3 linked regions of the Homo sapiens genome follow. The protein of the gene in region 2 interacts with the protein of the main gene of each other region in a pairwise test. Each region holds a gene or a part of one and is shown on either strand. Other genes may lie near its edges. The genes, in order: SMYD3, HELZ and SH3YL1.

What was found.
Region 1: the proteins of HELZ (region 2) and SMYD3 interact in a two-hybrid assay, tested with the Homo sapiens proteins (one study listed by BioGRID).
Region 3: the proteins of HELZ (region 2) and SH3YL1 interact in a two-hybrid assay, tested with the Homo sapiens proteins (one study listed by BioGRID).

The regions. Positions count from the first base shown.
Region 1 is NC_000001.11:246,503,690-246,512,229, forward strand, and holds the start of SMYD3 (histone-lysine N-methyltransferase SMYD3), read right to left. Parts: upstream 3,591-8,540; 5' UTR 3,529-3,590; coding exon 3,365-3,528; intron 1-3,364. UniProt on the Homo sapiens protein: Histone methyltransferase. Specifically methylates 'Lys-4' of histone H3, inducing di- and tri-methylation, but not monomethylation. Also methylates 'Lys-5' of histone H4.
Region 2 is NC_000017.11:67,241,498-67,250,092, forward strand, and holds the start of HELZ (probable helicase with zinc finger domain), read right to left. Parts: upstream 3,700-8,595; 5' UTR 3,651-3,699; exon of another isoform or gene 3,279-3,650; intron 2,343-3,278; 5' UTR 2,287-2,342; intron 1-2,286. UniProt on the Homo sapiens protein: May act as a helicase that plays a role in RNA metabolism in multiple tissues and organs within the developing embryo.
Region 3 is NC_000002.12:218,648-226,537, reverse strand, and holds part of SH3YL1 (SH3 domain-containing YSC84-like protein 1), read left to right. Parts: intron 1-1,617; coding exon 1,618-1,674; intron 1,675-7,536; coding exon 7,537-7,727; 3' UTR 7,728-7,890.

The sequences.
Region 1 (8,540 bases), on a different chromosome or scaffold from region 2:
CAGCGGCTCACGCCTGTAATCCCAGCACTTAAGGAGGCTGAGGCGGGTAGATCACCTGAGGTCAGGAGTTTGAGACCAGCCTGACTAACATGGTGAAACCCCATCTCTACTAAAAATACAAAAATTAGCCAGGCGTGGTCTGTAATCCAAGCTATTAAGGAGGCTGAGGCAGGAGAATCGCTTGCACCTGGGAGGCGGAGGTTGTGGTGAGCCAAGATCACACCATTGCACTCCAGCCTGGGCAACAAGAGCAAAACTCCATCTTAAAAAAAAAAAAAAAAAAAAAAAAGTGATTTCAGGTTATAATTTCATTGCCATTTACTCTTTCTACAACTTACATACTTCATTTTCTTTTCCAGGCACAACACGGAAAAACCAGAAGCCATTCCTTAATGAGAGGAAAAAGGTAAGATAAGCCATGAAGCAGGTTCACCTTTCTCCATTAACAAAAACAAGTATACAGAACTAAAGCTACTAATCAAAACAGCTCTAGAGCAAAGGAAATCATGTAAAACTTGGTAACCATTGTTTCTGGAGCCTAAGGAAGTAGAGATGTGCATCCCTTAAGGACATCATGAGGTGATTTCATTGTTGTAGGAACATCATGGTGTATCCTCACACAAACCCAGACTGTACATACAGCCTGCTACACACCTAGGCTAGCAGGTATTGTCTGTACTGCCTACTGCTCTGAGGCTATAAACCTGCACCGCGTGTTACTGTACTGAATACTGTAGGTAACTGTAAAACAATGGTAAGTATTTGTGTATCTAAATGTACCTAAACACAGAAAAAGTACAGTTAAAAAATGATATAATCATACAGGGCCACTGTCATGTATCTGGTCTTTCGCTGACCAAAATGTCGTTATGCAGTGCATGACTGTAATTATCATCAATATCTGTTTTTTTAATTCTATTTTGATTTTTCCTTTCCCATGTAACTGTTAATTGCTACAAACTAACATTTTCATTCCATACTTAATTCAGATGGAAGGCAGCAGAAGGACAGGGGCAGTTAGGAGGAAAATTCTGCCAGACATTCATACTAAAACTAAGGGCTTACTATGTGTTAGACACTGGGGCTACAAAAACTGAAAGATGCACTATTCTTAAAGACTTCACAATGGACAGTGAATAAAGAGAAACAAATTTTACTTACAAGATGACAAGTAATACAGAAACTTATCCCTCAAGGACAGGCATTCAACAGTGGCAGAAAACTGCATCAAACAATGCGCTAACATTTCCCTAACACTATTTTCAGGTTGCAGTGATTCCCAACCAGGCTCTTTGGAACACTATAACCACTAAAATGGGAGTGTTCAAACAGAGCAACTACTACCACAACACAAGTGAACTGTGTATCCTGGCAATCCAAAGTAAGTGCAAATATTTTGTGTCTGTGTAAAATACTAGTAAGTATTTGTCAGTCATTATGAAGAATCTGTTTAGCTTGTTTTGTTTAGATGCTTAGCATTTACTTATATCCCTTTTTCTATGTTTATGTTTGCTGATTTCCCCACTGGATAACTATCGGTGGGAAGTAGAGTGAGCCTGCCTTCTATCTTAAAAGCCAAAAAGGCTAAATACCGTCTCAACCTCCCTCGCGCTAGGGGTGCAGGCAGTGACCTAAGTTTAGCCAATCCAAGACACTCACTGAGGACTTTGAATAAAAGCCAGTATCACAAAGAAGAATGGTTGAGAGAATCACTCTCCAGCAACAGTGAGTTTCCCAAGGAGCAGCAGCAGCAGCAGCACCAGGGTCCAGTGTCTATGGTGTTCGTGGTACCTACTGCAGAATCCAATATTATCAGGCGACAGAAGTGATATACACCCCAGATCCCAGCCCCAGCTACTTTTGCAGTGCAATCCTAACTTGGTTCAGCCGATGCCCAGTCAAGTCTTGGCAGACTTTAAAGCAACACTGAGAACTCCCCCAAAACTCTTTCATTAAATTCCTTTTTTGCTTAAATCCCCAGTTACTGCAAACAGGAAAAATGAATGAGACTAATGAAATAGTATGGTAAATCAACAAGCATCCCACCCACAAAGGGTTTGTGTAGCTTATTTTGGAAATGCACAATTCCGTGTGTCACAAGACTCAACTTCAGCTCTAATGATTCAATTGCCAATTTGTCACCATTTATTCATTCCAAAACTTTTCTGTTCCAAGAACTATCTTGAAAGGAACGAATTGTTTTCAACCACACAGTTTACAAAAACTTCAAGATGCTGCTCTCTCCCGAACAGATGTTTTCGCTGTTATCATTACTTCAGAAAGCAACAGACAAAATTATTATTTGGTAGCTCTAAAATGCAAAGTCATATTCCTGAATTATGAATCAAATGAGAACAAAGTAAGAACAATGGTCAAATTACAGATACGAGTTTTGCACTTACCGTCCCACCTCCACCCACCTAAATCTCAGACTGGCAGGTCTGAAAAGCGGCCATGCACAAAATCATCGCACTCATCTCAAAATAGAACTCTTCTTCCTCGCACACAGAAGCTCAATAATATTTGTTGACTGAATGCAGTTCCTATTATTCATGTATGTTACACATTTCCATAAATTGCTTTCACATAGCACTTTACACCGGCACAGCGCGTCCAGGCTTCCAAAACACCTTCACGTGAATCCCTGCATCTAGAATGGTGGTTAAGAGTTAGACATGCCTGCACAGCCATTAAATGGCACAGCACACGGGGGACCCGTGTCTGATGCTCCCACAGCACATTAATTGCCCCTCTATTTCAGCCCTTCTGGTACACTGTAATTCTCTCTCTCACTTGATCAGCTCTTTGAGGAGGTCCCGTTCCTCTTCGTATCCCCAGGCCACACACAACCCAGACCACAGAGGTGCACCGTAGACATCAAGATTCTTCCACCTGCTGCAAGCCTGATGCTTTACCGGCGGGGCCTCTGCAGGGGAGCCTGATTTATACTCATCCCAGCTCCCACCCAGCCCCACGCCCGCCACGTGTGATTTCCACAGCCGCACCAAGGAAGACTGTCCAGCACACAGACTTTTCGTCTCCCAGCAAAATTATCCCCGGCACAACGCTTCCCCCTCAAGTCTGCCCAATGGCTTTCCCATTTCCACCGCAGCCCAGGTTGGGGGGCAGTGGCTGAGCCTGGGCCCCCTCCCAGCCCCGCTGCGGCAACCTAGGGGGGTGTCCGGGCGGGGCCTGTCAGCAGCGACCCGCCCCCGGGCACACGCGCGTCAGGGGCAGCACCGCCAAGCTGCCTGTGCAGCCCCATCCAGCAGGAGTCCCGCGGCTGCCGGCCGCCCGACGCCCCCCCCTCCCCAGCACCCCACACAGCTCGCGACTCAGGTAGGCGAGGGCGCTCCTTACGCACCCGAGAAGGCAGCGGTCGCAGACGACGCCACGACTCCCCTTGCACACCGTGTACGCCAAGGGATCCGAGCGGAAGAGTAGCTCTCCGGGGCGCAGCGGGGTCACGGCGCGCAGCCCGTTTCCCCTCTTGGCGGTTGCGAACTTTTCCACCTTCAGCGGCTCCATCCTCCCGCAGCTCCGGCACCTCAGACGGCTACCCGCGTCCAGCAGCGGGCGTCTCACGGGCTGCCGGGACCCGCGCGCCTGCGCCCTGCGCGCACACGTACGCCCGAGGGGCGGGGCGGGCGCGGTGGGGCAAGAGCATGCGCAGATGGAGTCTGGAGGGACGGCTGGAGTGGAGTGTGTGGGACCTGAAGGTGGTCGTAAGGCTCCGCGTGCGGCTCGTGCCCATGGCGACTGCGCAGAAGACAGGCGGGGTTTTTTTTCTCCCTCTAACATTGTATTACGATCATTTTAACGCATACGGAACAGTTGAAAACAGTGCAGTGAACACCTATATACCTCCGCCTAAATCAGACAACCTAGCACTTTGCCATTTCTGCTCGTCACTCTCTCCCCACCTGTAGCTATGTATACACGTATTGTCGTTAAACTATTTCAAAGTTGCAGGCATCATGACATCACAACTAGTACTTTGCACTGTAACTTTTTTTTGTTTTAGGACGGAGTCTTGCTCTGTCGCCCAGGCTGGAGTGCAGTGGCGAGATCTCGGCTCACTGCAACCTCTGACCTCCGGGTTCAAGCGATTCTCCTGCCTCAGCCTCCATAGTAGCTGGGACTACAGGCATGTGCAATCCTCCCGCCTGGGCCTCCTGACTAGATGGGACTATAGGCTCACGCCACCATGCCTGGCTAATGCTTTTTACTTTCCTCCAGAGACAGTCTACCTATGTCGCCCAGGCTAGTCGCAAACTCCTGGCCTCAAGTGAACCTGAACCTCCTGCCTCGACCTCTCGAATTGCTGGAATTACAGGTGTGAGCCACCACACCCAGCTTAATTTTCTTTTTTGTTTTTGGGGTTTGTTTTGTTTTGTTTTGTTTTTTGAGACGGAGTCTCATTCTCGCCCAGGCTGGAATGCAGTGGTACGATATTGGCTCACTGCAACCTCTGCCTCCCGGGTTCAAGCGATTCTCCTGCCTCAGCCTCTTGAGTAGCTGGGACTACAGGCGCCTGCCACCACGCCCGGCTAATTTTTGTATTTTTAGTAGAGACGAGGTTTCACCGTGTTAGCCAGGATGGTCTCGATCTAACCTTGTGATCCGCCCGCCTCGGCCTCTCAAAGTGCTGGGATTACAGGCGTGAGCCACCGCGCCCAGCCCACCCGGCCTAAATTTCTTAGTTTGGACAAACGTGCCATGGTAATGCAAAATGTCATTATTAAGGGCAGCTGGATGGAAGGTGTAGGAGTACACTATAGTGCCTTTCAATTTTTCTGTGTATCTAAAGTCATTTCAAAAGTAAACATTTATTTTAAAACATGAAGGTGGTTATGCTTCCATGAGTGTAAAGTACAAAAGGCAGGCTCGTGGTGCTGTCAGAAGTCAGAACACTGGTTTCAGGGCTGGGGGTGTTGGGAGGGGCTGGGCATGGTTGGCTTTGTGATCTGGGGGCTGGTGTGTTCCATCTGTGAATATCTTTTAAGCTGTGCACTTACCAGGGATGTAAGTCATATCTTAATAAATTTTCATAAGTTTGACAAAAAATAAAATGAGGATGGGAAGCTTGTTTGGGTTGTGGGGCCTCGGGTGCTTATCCAGCCATGAGCTGTGTCCCAGATGCTTCTAGAAGCCTGGAGGGAGCTGAGAACATTCCAAGTCGAGGTGGCAGAGCCAAGGCCCTGAGGTGGGAGCGCAATGCTGCACATCCCCAGCTGTGAATGGGGTGTCCTGGTCAGAAGCAGTGCTGTGTGCACTGCAGGGCCGGCAAATCCACGTCCACATTGTGGCTTGGTGCAGTGAAAGCCAATCTCAGCCCCCTCCACAGTGTGATTAGCCTGCCAGCAGGTGGCCAGCTGGTCCTCCTGGGAAATGGTGCCAACCCAGAGACTGGGTGCAAGTGTCTCATCCACGGAGGGGCGCTCAGCAGTGGTGTCAGCCTGGTGAGCCTCGGTAAGGGCACGTGCAGGATGCTGAGCCTCTTCCGTTCCCATGCCCGTCTCAAGGCCACTTGCTCCGTGGGCCCATCCAGCAAGCATGGTGGCCAGGAAAGAAGCCGGCTCCATTCACAGGGCGTGCTGTTTTGCTCACCTCAGGACCAAGAGCATCCTCCATAGTGATTCTCTTTGGTGGGAGCACTAGAAACATGAACCACAGATACCTTCAGCGTCTGAGCCGCTGAGGCGAGGGCTGCAGGACACCCTGCTGTCGGGAAACCCTGCACTGGCGGCTGGAAGGCATGTGGTGGTGGCGCCTGCTGTGGCTGCAGCAGTTGCTGCGAGGCTTCGGGATCTCGCCGGCCCCTGCGAGGTGAATTGTGACAGTGCAGAGCTCCGTGGTACCAGGGCCCCCTGCATGGCCATGCTGACTGCAGCTGGGAGCCCACCACACCTCTGGTTCCCCGCTCTTCCCAGGGCTGGGGTCTAGGCCAGGCCCCTCTTGGCCTGCGAATTGTGCCCTGGGAGGGGGACACTGTTCCACAGGTTGGGACCAAGGACCCAGGGCATGCTACTGGCTGGCTGGGCTGCAGGGATGCCATGCTCACCTTTCTCTCTCATGGCCTTGACGGGACCGGCTTCCTCATTGAACAGCATTTTCCAAGGTGTCTGGGATTGCTGGTGGGGTGCCACCCTGGCTCCTTCTAGGCATGCCCGTCATTGGCCACCAAGGGGGCCAGATGCAGGTGCCCATGCTGCTGTGGGGGCATCTCCCAACTTCCCTCTTAGTCCTGATGGGCCTAGGCAGGGCCTGATATGGGGGTCCCCATGGGCTTCCGGGGCTAAGCCTGCCCCATGGTCCCAGGGCTGTCCAGGACACATTCAGAAGGGACATGAGCTCAGCAGCTCTGTTTGAAATTATTATGGAACCAAGGGCCCCCCACATCCAAGTCCACTGGGAGTCGGGACATGGAGTTCCGCTGCAGGTACCTCCAGGAACCCCGAGGTCCTCCTTGAGCCAAGGCCAGGCTGGGCACACCATAAGTCCTGGGTCCCCCAGAGAATGGCCTGCTGCCCTGGGCTCCCCAGAAGCCCCCTCACGCCCCTGGGCCTTGGCCACATGGAAGCCCCACCAGGACAGGTGTGAGAGGACAAGGAACCCATGGTGGGGAAGCAGACCAAATGGGCCGCTGGAACCAGGCTGGTGGGCCAGGGGGCACCTGCCCATCCCCCTTGCAGAGGGCCTTCCTGCCACGTGAAGCCAGCACAGCCCTGGCTGCTGAGGACCCTTGCCTGGGTTTGGCTGAAAGAAAAACAGACGTGATCAGGCAGCACCTCCAGTGGGCCCAAAGAGTCCTTTCTGGGCCGGGCCCCACCTGCCTGGGTCTCCGGAGTCCTCAGGGTCTCTCGGTGGCCCCTGGGGTCTGACACTGAGGACACACCTGCAGGCTGCTGATCCCAGAGGGAGGGGTGTGTGTCACCTGGGGTAGGGAAGCTGTCGGGGCACAGCAGGTGGCTCCTGGGACTGCCCCCCAGGATTCAGGCTGGCTGGGGGCTTCCTGCCCCATGCCCTCATCCCAGGGCTGTTGGGCCTGGTATATGATCCCCAGTCAGAACTCAGGTGGGAGGGGCCTTGGCTGTCACCCAGCCCCCTTGCTACCTCACTTGGGGACCTGTCTCTACCATGAGTAAGAGGGCCCAGATACGGGGCCCCCTCTGCCCTCCTGGGCTGCCCGGTCCATGCCAGGACTGACCATTCCCACACCTGGCTGAACTCTTGGCTCTGGCTCTGGGCCAGGGGTCCCACCTGTGCCCTTGCCCTGAAAGCTCTGGGGGTCAGGGACACCGACTCCCTTGTCTCCCTGGCTCAAGGCTCGTTGTCCTGGCACCCTTGGAGGGATGTTCAGGAGTGAGGGGCCTCTGCTGCTCTCTGAGGCTGTCAGTGCTTGCAGGGAGGGGTGGGGGGGGTCCCACAAATGGGTCTGGCTCCTCCAGTGCCGTCAAGGGCCCTGTTGGGGGGGGGCGGGACACCGTGGAAAGTGGGAGGGGGCTTGTTGGAGAGGTCTTGCCCACATCCCCCTCCTGCGTGCACAGCATGTGCAGTGCACATGCACTGAGCACCTGCCCTGAGGACCGGGGGCCTATTGTCTTTCTTAGAGTCCAGGAGGAAAAGGAGGAAGAAAAGGCACAAGAGGAAGGCCCAGGTAGTAGGCTTGGGGGTCCCGGGCGCTCCCCCACTATTGACTGCCCCAGAGGGTGACTCAGGAGGGGGCCTGGTATGGAAGCCCATCTGGGGGTGGCAGGTCCCCATTCTTCCTTGTTAGCTTCCTCGTAGAGGCCCAAGGGTGCCCGAGAGCTGCGTCTTCATCCAGGGCCTAGGTATGGGAGAACCAGCCCCCAAAACTGCCCATGGGCCAGACCTGGATGTCTTCATGAGGCCCTCTAGGGATAGGGTGGGCATCAGGCCAGGAGAGTTCCCTGGGAGGGTCAGAGCCCATACCTCATTGCCACCTCAACCGTCTCCCACTGGGAGGTGCCAGATCCTTTTGTGGCCACCCCAGGGGTCCAGATGTGCATAGGAGGCTGTGGCTGGGGGTGGCCTGGGCAGGGAAGTGCTCACCACACTCCAGACTTTCATCTGGAACATGTCGGGGGTGGGCTTGGTGTCACTGTGCCCTGCCCAGCCCACCCAGCCAGACCTCCCCCTGGGCCAGAGCAGAGGATCATGGGGACAGTGTGAGGAAGCTGCCCTCAGGCCAGTCCGAGTCTGACCCCAGTGCTCCCCAGTGCCATTGGGCACACGTGGACTTACTCCATTAAACCTTAAAGGCAGTGCATGCCATCGGCATCAACACCTGTTCCCCTTCTACCAAATACACATCCCACAGGTGCAGGTTGAGCCTGAGAGAGATCTATGGGGACAGCAGACACTGGAGGACCTGGCCCTTCAAGGCTGGGGGCTGGTGGCTCGAGCTGGGCCCACTGGGACTTCAGTCCCCAGAGTCAGTGACCCTCCCCATGAGGGTCATCTGACCCTTCCAGGAGGCTGGGTCAGACAGGGTCTTGCAGCTCCTCATGAGGGGC
Region 2 (8,595 bases):
CTTAGCCTTTCATGAATATGCTGTAGATTTTTTAATTACACGAGGCCCTTTGCAAGTAAAAATGACTTTTCCTGTTGTTTTGGCATCACTCCTCTTCCAGTGAAAACTGGACAGTCTATAAATATATACCAACTTTAAGACAATGCATTTTAATATCTATGGCATTAGAAAATAAAACTTCTTGTTAACAAATGCAATAATCAAGTTTACCAGCTAATAGAAAGGTACTTACTCCCAAAAACTACAGCCTTACCTAAAAATAGTGTCCTAGCTTCCCAGCCAAAAGGACAGACTAAAAAAGCTCTGTCTTTATTCAGCTCAGAGACACAGACTTCTACCTCACCACAACCTTCAATACTATGGCATTTCCCATTTTAGAATACTTTGTGTAACAAGTTGTTCAGTGGCCAACCACTAACTTCGCTTTGAAATGAATACTAACACTTCACAGAGTCTACATGTGTGAGAACTGTGGAAAATGTCTTGACACAATTCAGGTCAAACAACACTAGCCACACAAGATTACCTACTTCTAAGTATTCCATTTTAGACTACAAACAAACATCTCCACAGTCAAAAAGCAGACCACTGGCTCCTTTCCACAAAATTATCTGTAGGCTTCAAGAAAAAAGATAAGGCCAGGCATGGTGGCTCACGCTTGTAATCCCAGCACTTTGGGAGGCCAAGGCGGGCAGATCACCTGAGGTCAGGAGCTCGAGACCAGCCTGACCAACATGGTGAAACCCTCTCTCTACTAAAAATACAAAATTAGCCGGGTGTGGTGGCGTAAGCCTGTAATCCCTACTCGGGAAGCTGAGGCAGGAGAATTGCTTGAACCTGGAAGGTAGAGGTTGCAGTGAGCTGAGATCGCGTCATTGCACTCCAGCCTGGGCAACAAGAGTGAAACTCTGTCTCAAAAAAAAAAAAAAAGAAAAAAAATCTATCTATCTATATACATAGATACACACATATATACACATATATACATATATACACACATATCTATACACACATATATGTATATATACACACATATATGTATATATACACACATATATGTATATATACACACATATATGTATATATACACACATATATAAAGTTCAAATTGGGAGGTCTAAGGCAGGAATATGCCTCCATCTGCAAAATAAAAATAAATTTAAAAATCCATATTTGCTCTGCCAAAAATAAAAATTATATGAAATAAACATAAGCACTGCTGAGTTTCAAACACAAGAAAATGCAGTATGTGCACTTACAAAAGAATCTTGGTTTATGTCCACCTTCCTTTCCTAAGTTTTTATTTTTTTAAGGCAAAATGTCAATTACATGCCTCAATCTAGAAAAAAAAAAAAGGATAGCTTATTCTTCTTAAACAGATGTTGTGATAGACACGAAAAATTTGTGAGAGGATTTCAAAATCCAGAGGCCCAGATGTGTGGAGAAACAACAAAAAAAAAACTACAGTAACCAATCGACCACAATTACTTATTATTTTTCTAAAAAAAAACTTAGTAAAACATTTTAAGTTGAGAAAACTCGTGAAAAATGTAAAAGTAGCAAACTTCTCTTCCTCTCTATAGCACAGAAAACTATTCACTAACACTGTATCAATAATATCCTTTAAATCCAAAGCATTACAAATTAGATTAAATAAAGCACTTTGAATAAATTCACACACCGTGTGTGATCAGGACATAATGACAAACTAGTCTATTTCCTAATAAGCTAAACAGATCTCAACACTATCATCTTTATTTCAAAATAATTATTAAAGAGAAAAGTACTACTCCATTTTTCAGAAAATAAAAGCAGGAGTGATTGACCTGCCTAATTCTTTCTAACGGAAAGGGTATACTTTACGAGTCCCACAAACCAGGTACACACAAAATCCATATACATAATCACCGGGACTAAACGTACAGTAGGTGATAGACACCAAAACACAAATAAAATTAAGACATCCAAGTAAAGTTACGCAAGAAAATTTGAATAGGCAAACTATAATTATCCCTGGTGAAGATACTGATCAAGAATAGCTGCAAGTAACATTTGGCTCTTAGTTAAGTACCACTATGTTTGAGTATGTTGGAGCAACTGAAAAGATTGGTACATTCAACATATTTTTCCTTTCTAAATCTAGCCCTGCCCATAGACCCACTGACTGAGTGATACATTTGGAAAACAAAGATGGCCCCATCAAATTACTCAGTTTCAGCCTTACTCTTACCAGTTGATTAAAATAAAGAAGGAAAAAAAGGAAATCATTTTTAACTGCAGTCTCACCTTACACATCTCACCAGCACTGTAGTTCATTAGTGATCCATTACTTCATCCAAATCCTGAGGCAAATAGAAAAGATGTTTCCATACAACACCAGTAACAGACATTATCAGTAGCAAACATTTTATCAGCCTGAAGTGAAAGGGCATCTACATTTAAAATGGAAAAAGTTACAAAAATGGTACAGTGTGCAGCTTTGCAAATGAGTCTGGTTTTTGACCTTAAAACATTTCCTTTCAGTAAGGTAAAAGAATAGATTATACAATGCTCTTAAAACTCAAAAACATAATAAAATCATCTTTTTCAACACAGACTGACCTTACTTTCAAAAACATAAAGAAATGAAGGAGAGGAAATTTCATTAATATGAGTTTAAGAGAGAGCAAAATTAAGAACAAACTAGGCAAGACAGACAACTCCTCCCTCCTTCCCCCGCTCCAGGAATCCACTGTCTCTGAAGTTACACTTTTTATTATATTAATGATTTGCCTGAGAAGTGTTAAGTTGTGAGGGAGAAGGAATGACAATTTTTGAACTGCAAACAAAACCTGAGGATCCCGATCCAAGAACAATCAGAGGACCCTGGCTTCCAGCCCTGTCTGAAGATTTCTCAGCAAAGGCGAGGGTGCAGAAGGCTCCAATAATTTAGGGGAGAGGAATCGAAGTTCCCTAGGTAAGACTGCAGTCTGTGAGCCCTTGAAAAGGGTACTGGAGTACTCTCAAGGAATCTCCAGGAAAAGAGAGCCTATCTTTATTTTTGTTGATGTGCTTGTGGGCCAAAGAGCATTTCCGAGGAGGGGGCGGGGAAAGGGGGGAAGAAAGTGAATCTCGGGCCGAGAGCCCTCCGCGGGGGAGGGAGGGGGCGCACGCCTGACCCACTTTTCCCCACGCCCCCGCTCCAGCCCCCACCCCACCCGGTGGAAGTCCGAGGCCTGAGGGGGGGCATCGAGCGGGGCGTGGGAGGCCCGCACGCTCCCCACCCCCAGCCGCGACCCGGAGGAGGGGAACGTGCCGGGAGGCTCGAGTCCCCCTCCCAGAGTGCTCTGGGCCGGAGAAACCTCCCGCAGGCTCCCGGGCCAGGCGTGCAAGGCCCCCTCTCCTGCCAGGGCCCAGGACGCTGCGGGCCCCAGCGGAGGGGAAGGGGACTAAGTAGGGGAAGAAGCTGTAAACAGCCCCAGCGTCCGGGCCTCGCCTCGAAGAGCCGCGCTTCCCAGGCCCAGCCGCGGGCCGCCCAGGCCCCCAGCCTGCCCCGGGGCCGCCGCGCCCGGGGTCCGGGACACCGGAGGGGAGTCGGGTCCCCTCCCCGGAGAGCTCCGGGAGCTCGCGGAGCGGCCCCAGGAGCAGAGAAGGGGGAAGTCAGGACTTACCTGTCATTACTTTCTACGCCATCTTGGATCCACTTGTCAACGTCCCCACAAAGCATTATGGGTAAGAAAGAGCCTTTAAAGTGACTCCCCCCGGCCCCCGACTCCCGCCTCCCGCCGCCGGCGCCGCCCCCTCCGGCCGCGCCTCCCGCCCGGAAAGTTGCCCCGGGTGGACTGCCGACCCCGGCGCCCGCAGCTGGCCCCTTCCCCTCCCCCGGGCTGACGGCATTGAAAATTCACCCGCATTTTTAAAACGTGGCTTTGGGGTTTTCTCCCTTTCTCCTGCCCCGGCCTCCCTGCCCCCACGCCCGGTCCTCTCGCCTCGCCGCGTTCCTGCCCGGGCAGACGCCCCGCGTCTGCATTGAATCAACCCGAGGTTTCCTTGCCGCCCGCGGCGCGGCGCGGAGCTGCTCGCGGATTTATTTGTGCGCGTGGATGTGAGCGTTTCTGCTCCTGCGGCCGCGCTTCCAGGAAGCCCGCGAGCGGCCGGGGTCGCCTTCAGAGGCCGCGCAGACCAGCTCCGCACCCGCCGCCCGGAGAGGTGCCTCTGCCCTGGGAAACCGCCCCGGGGCCGTTGGGCTCCGGGAACTGGGAGGACGCCGTGTCCCCGAGTCCACCAGCGTCGAAGCACGATTTAAAAAAAAAAATTGAGCCAAATGCAACTTTTTACCCCTTGTTTACTCTGTGTCCCGCGGTCTCCTCCTCCGGGCGGGTAACGTGATCCGCGACCCTCTAGGTGGGGACCCCTCCCCTAGGAATGTGGCTCCAGGCTCCGCGGAGCCACCCTGGGAGCGTCCGGGCTGCGGACTGTGACTCCGGGGCAGGTAATCCGGGGCGCCGGCTGCGGGCTCCGGGCGGGGCGGGGCGCGGAGGCAGCCAGGGCTCGGGGGAGGGTCCCGGGCGGAAAGCAGGGTGCGCCAGTCCGGGTCCACCTGGCGGGTCGGGGGAGAACCGCGGGCGCCGCTGCAGCTCGGGAGGCTGGAGGTGGGGACGCCCGGCGTCTCCGGGCTGCGACCCGCTGCGCTGGAAAGTGTGGGGCGCCTTGGCGCGGGCTGAGGTCTCTGACCCGGGCGAGTACCCCCAGCCCGCCGGCCACACTGCTGCCGGGCATCCTCTCCCCGCGACACCACGCCCGCTTTCGGCTGCGCGGGGCGAGCAGCGTACTGACCCCGGCGTCCAGCCGCCCAGGTCCCCCCAGCAACGGAGGCCCCTTGGTCAGCCTCCTCCCGCGCTCTCCGCAGAGCCTCTGGTCCCTGCTTTGCTGTCTTTGGAGGCCTGCTCCAGTTGCTTTTTTTTTTTTCCAAGCAAGTTTTTACAACAAGGAGATACCCAAAAGAAAATTCTCCAAGACAGGAATGCTTGCGAATTGTATTCGGTACAAAATGCTGTTGAACGGCTCTACCTTTAGAAGACCGCAGAAGCACTGGCATTAAAACCCTCTTTCGGTGCACGGGGAGGGCCTGGGGCCTTGGATCTACCCGAGGATTTTACGCTCCTCCAGACCCTATCAACAGCCTCACTAGGAACGTGAACGGTGGCAGACAGGAGCCCTGCCCCTGGGGAGCCAAAAACTCCACCAGGCAATTGTCCCGGTCTGATGAGAAGGTGTAGACACATTAAGGGATTGGCCCCGGGTCACTCGTGAAGGAGGGAACGAGGTAGTGAGTCATTCCCAGCCAAGAACGCAGCGTGCTGGGGAGCAACCTCCCCTGAGTCACCTGCTTCTCACCTCGGAATAAGTGGAGAAACTGGAGCCTGGAGCCAGGTTCTTAGACGGCCCAGCAAGGTAGCCACCAAGGGCATGGGCTAGGCTGGGGGGAGGCAGCGCCCCTCCTGCTGGAAAAGGGAATGCTTGGCCCGTCTGAAGAAGGCTCCAATGTCTCTTTCCAGGGTACCCCAGGTGCTTCTTTTCCAATTCCTCTTTTGCACTTATTTAGCCACTGGTATGCACTGGCTTAATGGTGGTTTTGTTTGCATGGCACCTTTAGGTATGTGGTCTGAGTTTATGCAAAAGTAATGACAAAAGCCGCAGTGACTTTTGCACCCACCTAATATAAGTAAACAGGAAATAAGTTGAGGGCAAGGACTGTGTCTCCCAAACACGTTTCTTTGATAAGCAGCCTTTCTTTGCCTTGTATAGGCATTGACCCAAATAAGTGTTCAGTTTGTGTGACTGCCCAACCCATTCACTGCCTCCAGTGTGTGCATCCAAGCCCAACCTTGTCAAATACACCGCCTGTTGCCTGAGCTGGGACGGCCTGCCGACTCTTCTCCCTGCCCCTCCTGGATACCTACAATGCATCCTCCACCTGACCAACCCTGTGATATTTTATGAATGTAAATCAGATCGAGACTTCTCTGCTGAAACCTTGGAATAAAACCCAGATTCCCAACCCTGGCCTACAAGCTCCTGTGTGAGGTGGTCCCACCTTCCCTCACCAGCAGTGGTCCAGGCTGGCCTTCTCTCTTTCCCTGCAGCGCCCCAAGCTTCCTTCCAGTGAGAACCCTATTCCCCCAGATCTTCTGATTATCTTTTCTTTGACAGAGTCTTGTTCTGTCGACCAGGCTAGAGTGCAGTAGCGCGATCTCAATTCACTGCAACCTCCGCCTTCTAGGTTCAAGCTGTTCTCTGCCTCAACCTCCTGAGTAGCTGGGATTACAGGCGTCCGCCACCGCGCCCGGCTCATTTTTGTATTTTTAGTAGAGACAGGGTTTCACCATCTTGGCCAGGGTGATCTTGAACTACTGACCTCGTGATCCATGCGCCTTGGCCTCCCAAAGTGCTGGGATTACAGGCGTGAGCCACCACGCCCGACCCATCATCTTTTCATCATATTTAGGTCCCCTCAAAGAGGACTTTTGTGATCCCCCTACCCAGACCAAGTCACTCTGAACACTTGACCTGTGTTAGAAGTTCTCTTGTTTAGGTCGGACGCTGTGGCTCATGCCTGTAATCCCAGCACTTTGGGAGGCCAAGGTGGGTGGATCACAAGGTCAGGAGTTCAAGACCAGCCTGGCCAAGATGGTGAAACCCTGTCTCTACTAAAGGTACAAAAATTACAGCGCGCCTGTAATCCCAGCTACTCGGGAGGCTGAGGCAGGAGAATTGCTTGAACCTGGGGGGCCAAGGTTGCAGTGAGCCAAGATCGTGCCACTGCCCTCCAGCCTGGGTGACAGAGTGAGAATTCCATCTCAAAAAAAAAGTTCTCTTGTTTGCCTGTTGTTAGTTGTTTCTTATCTGCCCCGCCCCCATTTGATCATATGCTCCCTCTGGGCACAGGCTCTGTCTGGCTTATTTGCCTCAGTGACTAGACCAGGGCCTGGCACATACATAGACGCTCACCAAGTATTAGTCGAGTACATGACCAAACTTCTCTCAGGGATGGGCGTGTTGATGAAAAGGAGTGCTAAAGTGTGAAGTGAGATGCTGAGGGCCCTGCCTCGCATCTCTTCAGACCACTGACCACACACAGCTAGAGGCAGGCAGAAAGGAACAGTGTTGAGGGAAAACAGGTCCCTTGGCCACCACTGATTTAGCTCAATTCTGATTCTGATCTCATGAACACACACAGCCCTAACTAACTGATCCCCCCGACATCACATCCCTCTTCCTTCCCACATTTTTTCTTTCTCCTCTGCTCCCACTGGCCGTGGCTTCTTTTCTTTTCTTTTTTTTTTTTTTTTTTGAAACAGTGTCTTTCTCTGTCACCCAGGCCGGAGTGCAGTGGCGCGATCTTGGCTCACTGCAACCTCCACCTCCTGGGTTCAAGCGATTCTCCTGCCTCAGCCTCCCGAATGCTGGCACCACAGGCACACACCACCACGCCCAGGTAATTTTTGTATTTTTAGTAGAGACAGGGTTTCACCATGTTAACTAGGCTGGTCTCGAACTCCTAGCCTGAAGTGACCCACCCGCCTCGGCTTCTCAAAGTGCTGGGATTACAGGTGTGAGCCACTGTGCCCGGCCGCAGTGCCTTCATTTTCTGCTTGGAGAGTCCCAAGTCTCAGTCCTTGGGTTTCTCTTCTACAACTACACTCCCTGGTCATTTGCCTTAGTACAAAAATTAGCTGGGCGTGGTGGTGGGCGCCTGTAATCCCAGCTACTCCAGAGGCCAGGGCAGGAGAAACGCTAGAACCTGGGAGGCAGAGGTTGCAGTGAGTTGAGATCGTGCCACTGCACTCTAGCCTGGGTGACAAGAGTGAGACTTCATCTCAAAAAAAAAAAGAGAAATAATTATAATGGACTGCCCACGGTGGCTCACGCCTGTAATCTCAGCACTTTGAGAGGCCGAGGCCAGGAGTTCGATCACTTGAGACCAGGAGTTCGGGACCATCCTGGCCAACATGGCAAACCCTATCTCTACAAAAAATACAAAATTTAGCTGTGCATGGTGGCTCATGCCTGTCATCTGATCCCAGCTACTCGGGAGGCTGAGGCAGGAGAATCAAGAATCGCTTGAACCTGAGGGGCGGAGGTTGCAGTGAGCTGAGATAGCGCCACTGCACTCCAGTCTGGGTGACAGAGTGAGACTGTCTCAAAAAAAAAAAAATTATAATGCCTTGAGGAATGTAAAGTACATCTAGAATTGAAATATTTGATAACAGTGAGTATAAATCTGAGAAGGGCGGTGGTTGCAGTTAGTGGAGTTAAAATGGTCCAAAGTAGGCCGGGCGCGGTGGCTCATGCCTGTAATCCCAGCACTTTGGGAGGCTGAGGAGGACGGATCACAAGGTCAGGAGATCAAGACCATCCTGGCTAACACAGTGAAACCCCATCTCTACTAAAAATACAAAATATCAGCTGGGTATGGTGGCGGGCGCCTATACTCGCAGCTACTTGGGAGGCTAAGGCAGGAGAATGGCGTTAACCTGGGAGGCGGAGCTTGCAGTGAGCAGAGATCCCGTCACTGCACTCCAGCCTAGGTGACAGACTGAGACTCCGTCTCAA
Region 3 (7,890 bases), on a different chromosome or scaffold from region 2:
TATTAGTGCGGAAGCATCTAGAAGATTTTGCCAGTCAAGGCTTGTCACATCTCCTTGTTAATTGGATTGTATTTATTCCTATTAGTGAATGTAAACATCTCTTCATATAAATTGCTGGTGTTTTGGATTTAATCTTATCTGAAAAGTCTCTTCATTTCATTGGTCTATTTTTCCTATTGGGATATTTGTTGCTTTCTCAATTTATGGAAATGTTATCTATATTATAGGTTTTGTTGGTCATTTGGATTGCAGCATATTTCTACACTTACCATTTTTCTTTTGATCTTGTTTTTCATAATTTTACTCCATGAAAGTTTTAAATTTTATCTAAAAATAAGTCTATCATTTAGTTTTTATAGATTTGGATACTTTGGTCATGATTAAGGTCTTCCCACCTCCTACACAAGAGTATGTTCATAGTCTCCTAGATTTTCTTGTGATTTTTTTATCTTTGCATTTACTGGATACTTAGTCTTCACATAATTTGAGCTCATTTTCCTAATTTTCCCCTCCTCCCCAATATACAATTCTAGTTGAAACAGTATGATGTACTTGTATCCATTCTATAATTTTTCAATGCTAATTATGGTAACATTACATGTATACATTTATTACTTTGAGATATAATAATTTTACCATTTCATGCTTTCCATTTGTTGAGATTTTATGTCTTTCAATAAGACTTTGTAATTTCTGTGCCTTTTGTGTTAAATTTGTTCCCAAGTACTTTGAGATTTTGATCTGCTAAGGTGAATGGAATGCACTTTTCTATTTCTACTTAAGTACCAATTTTCACAGTGAAGGAAATCTTAATTTGCATATATTTTGTTTGTCTTATATCTCGTCACTTGCTCAAAACTATTTCTAGTCAGTTTTTAAAAATAGATTCTCAGAGGATATTTGTATCCTTTTCCCATCCCACCAAACTTTATTTCTAAATTCTGACTTTCATAAATGTCTTAGGCCAGTGGCCTTCACACTGGTGTGTGCCTGTCTTTAGGAGTACGCAGAGACTGCAAAAGGGGGTGTGGGCACAGGCCACTTAAGAGACACCATCTCCAGATCTCCAGCTCCTGGATAAGTTCTTTTTAAAGCTGAACATGATGTGCAAGGTGTGCTCTTCGTCTTCTGTACTGTTAGAATCAGTTTTTCTGCAGTTGAAGAAGAAAAGCAAACCCCCAGACCGTTCTGCCTCTTTCTACACTACATCACCCCAGAGCGTCAGAACGGGAATCCAGTGTGAAATGTGGATGCAGTTAGTGAATGGCTCTTATGCAGTGTAAATCCTTCCATGAATCAGTGATTTCTGTTTCTTTGCCTTCAATGCAATTGAAGAAGAACCTAATAGAATTGTCATCTGAATTTATAATGAGAATAGTGTGTGTACTTCTGTGTCATACAGATGTCAGGTATTTATCATCTACCTTATACTTCATGTATCTTCTGGCTTTATTCAGGTATACCTTGTGATTTAAAGCGCAATCAAATGATGATGATCCTATCAACTTAGTGATTTAAAATATTTGCTCAGCAAGGGCAGGATCTGGCAATTTTGTGTATTTTGTATGATATATACTAATCAGTTTTCAAAATCACCACTCTCCTCTTTTTTGGCAGGTAACAGAAATGAATATAAGCTCTATCCTGGACTTTCCAGCTATCATGAGAGAGTTGGTAAATCAGTAAATCTATATGTTATAAATGATTCATATTCATTTTGTGATCACAAACTTCCTAATTAATCTGACAGGTTATGAAAATCTCTGGGAAGTGTTCAGCCCTTTAATTTATAGAATATTCACATTCTTTTGAGAAGTACTTCATTTAGAAAATGCTATGCTTTTGTTATCTTACTTGCCTTTAAGGTAATGAGGGTGATAGGAAGCTGACAGTCAGTGTTGTCTGTGTAGGGAGTGTGTGCTGGGGACAGCGCTGCTAAGCCCCGGATAGGAGCTAACCGTCAGTGTTATCTGTGTAGGGAGTGTGTGCTGGGGACAGGGCTGCTGAGCCCCGGGAGCCATGGCATCATCTGAGGAGCATGTGATCTCCTCCACATTTGCTGTCTGGAAGCTTTTGAATTTACAATGGAGATAAAATGAGAAAGTTTGCTAATTCTGAATTACAATTTCATCCTTATTCCATTTTCTCTGTGTTTTAGCACCATAAATTTTATATTTCTAAGAATTTTATTTTTCACATTCAAATGTTTTGTTATTACTGGAAACTACTTTATAAAACTTGTTAAGATTTACCATAGTAAAAATGGTCCTTCAATCTGTCTTACTTAAATATTCTTCAGAGGTTTCCCTGAAGAGAATTGAGCAATTATTTGCAAATGTGAGTGGTACACAAATTGAGGGCAAAGTTAAACAATCATAAAATAGCCTGTTTATTTTTTCACATTGAATACTTTCGTCATTGGAGTCACAAAGCTATATGCTGCTGGATATAAAACTGTCGGAGAATTAAACATTTCATGTAAATAAAATACCAAAAATTAGGTACTCAAGCATATTTTAAAAATTTATATCATGCAGATAAAAATATGTTGAAAAGGTCTCTTAAGCAGCATCCCCTGAAGAGAGGTCAGCATGTTCCTGATGGATTTAGGGTTGGTGACCTTTCTTTTCACCCTGGCCTCCCCTTCTGGGAGCCCACTCCAGTGTTTTTCCCAGATGTTTCTCCTCCGAGGGGGTTGAGCATCTGCTCCTAGAGTCCTGTATGGAGAGCAGGTGCGATGGTCGGGGGCTCACCTACAGAAGATGCTGTGCCATGGTCTTAGGTATGCAGAGAAAGCTCTGAGAGGTTTTAAAAATGTGTTTCACCCTTTGTGGTTCACACCCATGTTACAGGCCATGTTAAAGAGACATCAAGTTCACACCCACATTACAGGCTGATTTAAAGAGACATGAAAAGTTTGGCCTTTGGATACACATCCTGTAGAAGCAAAAGTGGTTAAGGTATAAATGTTGACACCAAGACAGCGTAAACACCTAGATTTTTATCTTACACAGCCTCTTACTTTTAAAGACTCAAGATTAGACTTAGACTTAGGTATCTGGTTGTTAAAGTGCTCCTAAACTTGACAAGGTCAGCTGACTGGCTGCACTTGCTTGGGAAGGGAGGGGATCCCTACAGAGAGACAGAGCTGAGGGAAGCTGGCTGAAAAAGAGCTGAGGCCACAGATCCCCCAAAGAATGCCTTGGTAATGTGACATTGGGAACTAGAGTTCCTTTCTCTATTAGAAACTTCCTATAAACAGCACCAAGGAAAAACGTTTCCTGATAAGAAATTAAACTCTAAGTGGGCTGTGGAGACAGAGATTCCAGTTCGAACCCCCGTACTTTCACTTACCAGCTGTGGGACCCAAAGGGAACATCACTTGCCATGGTTGGTTTCTCCGTTGCTTCTGTGTTTGTATTTGAGGACAGGACAAGGTAAATGGTAACTCAGTTACAACTGAGTTAATATTCCTTTAGCCCATTCTCCAAAGAGGTTCTTGAAGAAAAAATTAAAAGGGAAGATTTACAGTCCACTTTTTAAATAAAACTCACTTTACGTTACGGAATTTTTTTAAACGCAGCTGTGAAGGCATTAACCTCTTACCAAGGATTTCCTCATGTTTGCTTACCATCGCTGCAGAGAAAAGTCACAGTTACATGGCCCCAGGGCCCGAGCCTTAAATTGAAAACCTGATGAAGCAGGACACTGAGTCCTCCACGTGCGAGCTCCTGAATCTGTCTCAGCCCCACGGAGGGGCTGCTGGGTGTGATGATCAGCTACATCACCTGTACTTTCCTCCCACCATCTTTTGGCTTTGCCCTTTGGAAGGTCCAGCTGTGTAGTTCTTGGGCCTCTGAGAGAGACAAGGCTTGCAAATGCACAGTCCAATTTTCTGATCTTCCCTCTAGGGACTCTGGAAGGAATGGTTTCATAATCAAAAGCTTGGACCCTCCAGCGTCAGCATTCTTCCCCGTCCTCTTACCCATCCCATAGTTGTCTGGGATGGGGTTTCTCAACCTGGGCACTACACACAATTTAGGCTGGATAACACTTTGTTGTAGGGGCTATCTTGTGCCTCATAGGGTGCTTAGCAAAGGCTGTGTTCTCCTAGTTGTGACCTTCCCAAGGCTGTGATTTTTTTCCTGAAACAGTCAGGCCAGGGGTGCTGGCTGCACAGGGTCTGCCTCATGCAGGCTCCATGAGAAAGTGGACTGGAAGTGAAACAGGGACATCCACAGACCAGCCTTTCTAATCATGGGCCTCAGGGCAGCTGCCAGTCACCAATGCTGACTGTGATCTAATTCTGCTTCCTGTTTGGGAAAAATAACCCCTACTTCAACTAAACTTGAATATTATAAAGGAAATGGCCAATTCCCTCAAAGATCCTTCCGATTTTTTAAGTACATGAGTATAAGGCTGAAAGGCATATGCTGTGCAGAAGGAAAGGCATCTGTGAATGCCTAGCTTTTTAGTAACTCAGTGGGGTTTGCTTCCCGGTAACCAGGAAGGTTTTTCTTCATGGAAGGAATCATTACTTGACTCACCTTTTATTGGTGAATTCTTTGTGGGCATTAAACTTCTCCTTGTGAAAATTATCTCTAATATTTACATTAAAGAGGAACTTTAAGTCATTTGGAGTTTTTCAAAGAAAAAAACTAACAGGGCACAGCACTAACTGGCTTGTGGATTGTTATCTGAGAAAGCAGATAGGCTCCTGGATCTGCTGGCCTCACTCTTGTGATTTTCATGTGGATGGAGTTTCTCCAACAACAGCTCAACTCCTGACTCTCTTGTACTCCTCCCCAGGAGGCAGAGGCATTTGTGGTCAATTGGGTGAGGAATTGGGCACAAGGAACAGTCAACACACATCTTAGCCTCAGTAAAGGAGAAATGTGAGATCCCGGCCCCCTCAGACCTTCAGTGGTGGCCTTCCCTTCAGCTGCACCTGAAAACCACCCACGTTGCTCCTCTACCCTCCTCTCTCACTCTGCTTTATCCTCATTTCATTTGGAATCTGCAATTCAGAGAAAATTAGACCAACACCTGATTGTGAGGGCAGGGACCAAACCAGGTGTGTGATCTCGCCTTCTTTCTCTTTCTTAGTTCATAATATATTTATTTCTCTAATTATTCCTCATAAAATATATTCCTGAAACTGCTTAGAACCAATTCAGTTATCAGGGATTACCCAGAACCATAGCATCAGATGCTGTTATTTGTACAGTCTGGAAACCCAGTGAGGCAGGTCACCACATTAATCCCCCTTGAACATTTGCCTCATAAAAGTAAAATGCTCCGATAAATGTCAGTTTGGTCTGTTGAGCACAATTTCATATTTATGAGGTTGTTGAGGGTCTTGGATGACCTGGAGACAAGCTTCATTCCTGACCTTGGACAAATTACTTGTTATCTCTGAAGCTCAGTTTCAAATTCTGTGATGTGGGATAGGAGTAGCTGGCTCATTGCAGTGGGCGGTGTAAGAGGAGCACATGTGTGTGCCTGAGCAGTTCGCGGTGGCTGCTCTTCCCAGATGCACATCGATTGCTGTTATCATTGTTGTCGTCCTTATTATGCATTTTTGATTTTATAAATGAGACTGCAAGTGTATAAATGCATGGTAGCTAAGATGGCTGTGGCTCCCAGAACATTCCCTGATGTTCACAAGCACTCTTTTAATTCACTTCTTCCTATTATCTAACGTGTCTGGGAGACAAGAGGGAGGAGAACAGAGTTCCTGGAGGTTCTTCACTGATTTGTTCTGGTTAATTAAGATTCAGCTTTATATGTGGATATCCTAAATATAATCATGAATAAGAGATTTCCAGGATGGATTTTTCTTTAGCATTAGCTTGCATCCTGATCTGATGACAGGGAAGCACGGCGTGAGCGCCTGCCCGGTACCCCACCCAGGGCAGAGCACAGCTCCTTTCACAGTGCATGGCAGCGACTGCTCATTAACGTGTAGAATTTAATCGTGTACTTAGAACGTTTAACTTAACTTCTGTTGTTTCTAGACTATGTCAAAATTTTATTTTGGTGACATTCTTTTATCCTTATTCCTTAAAATTGTTAACTAAAAGTAAATATAGGACAAAATAAAATATACAGAAATTCTTTTTATTATAGAAAAAAGTAGTTATACCAGTATTATCTCTAGTGTAATTATTATTAGGATTATTTCTTTAGAACTCAACTAAATGGCACATACTTTAAAGAAAGAATGGTAGCACCATCTTGTGAGAGCTACAAATTCAGTGTTTTAGTCAGAGTAGTTTAAAGTGTTGACTATTTTTATTTCTTATGGGTGGACCAAATTCACTTTATTATTATTATTATTATTATTATTGTATTATGGGTTCAAATAGGACCTGGCTCTAGAGTCTGGTTATTGATGTTTTCTGTATGTCTGTACATCTAGTTGCCTAATTTATGCACAGAATTATATGAAGCATAGAAGCATCAGACTCCATGTAGCTGAGTGCTCAAAAACTGTTTAATTATATTTTTATGATGTTATGTGGTTTATAATATTTAATGTCCTTTATTCATGTTAACTGCTCAGTTCTCAAAGTATTTTCTTCCTTCTGCAATACATGGATATACACATTGCATTGAAGTACTTGTGAAACATGTAGAAATGCTCCTACCTGTGCTAATTCCAACTTATCTCTGATATTGAGAGGATGGATCAATTAAGCACAGAAATGTAAACAGCCACAAAGCCCAGGGAGAAGAAATGTCTGCTGAGGAAACAGCAAAATATAACTGGGCTGCAATCTTCAAGCCCAGTGAGTAAAGAGCCAGGTTTTAAAGTTGAATCTCCTAGGGTTTGATATAAGCTCACATATCTGCCTTTCTCCAGCATCTGCCATCCATGAAACTGTCACACTATCTTGGCCCCTTCCAGCTGCTGTAACAAAACACCATAGTCTGGGCAGCTCATAGACAATGGAATTTTATTTCTCACGCTTCTGGAGGCTGGATTCCAAGATCAAGGTTCCAGGAGACTCAGTGTCTGGCAAGGTCTCGGTTTCTGCCTCAGAGATGGTGCCATCTGGCTGTGTCCTCACAAGGAGGAAGGTGCAAGAAGCTCCCCTCAGGCTCTGTCTGTAAGACACTGATCCCATTCATGAGGGGGAAACGTAATGACCTAATCAGCCCCCAGAGACCCCACTTCTAACACCATCACCTTGGGGTTGAGGATTTCAACACTTGAATCTCAGGGGGACACAGACATTCAGACCACAGCAATGACTATATTAAAATAGAAAAAATGTAAGTTGTATTATCTCATAGATTATTCAAAATTTAGACGATTGTAACCAGAAGCATGTGCTAAATCCTTAGGTATAGAATGTGCAGAGAAAAATAAGTTTAATAATGTGATGAAAATTACACAGACTGTTGTGGTTTCTGCCAGCCTCCAAGACATCAGCATGCCAAGCCCTAAGTGGTTAATTTTTATCTTACCAGCAGATACCCCCAATTTCTCCCTTAAAGAACATAAACGTGAATACTTTTTTCTTGTTTCAGGCAATTTGAATCAACCCATAGAAGTGACAGCGCTGTATTCATTTGAAGGACAGCAGCCTGGGGATTTGAATTTTCAAGCTGGAGACAGAATCACAGTTATATCAAAAACAGATTCACATTTTGATTGGTGGGAAGGAAAACTTCGAGGTCAAACTGGCATTTTTCCAGCCAACTACGTAACCATGAATTAAAGCGTATACTATTTTCTTCTTTGAGAATTACAAAAAAATTATTTCTACACTGACAGGATTTACTAGTTAAGCAATGTTTAATATAAATTTTAAAAAACTTCTGTTCTACAAAATTTCCATTCCGTATGTAAAAGATTTTGTTTTTCTATATAAAAAGAGCTGA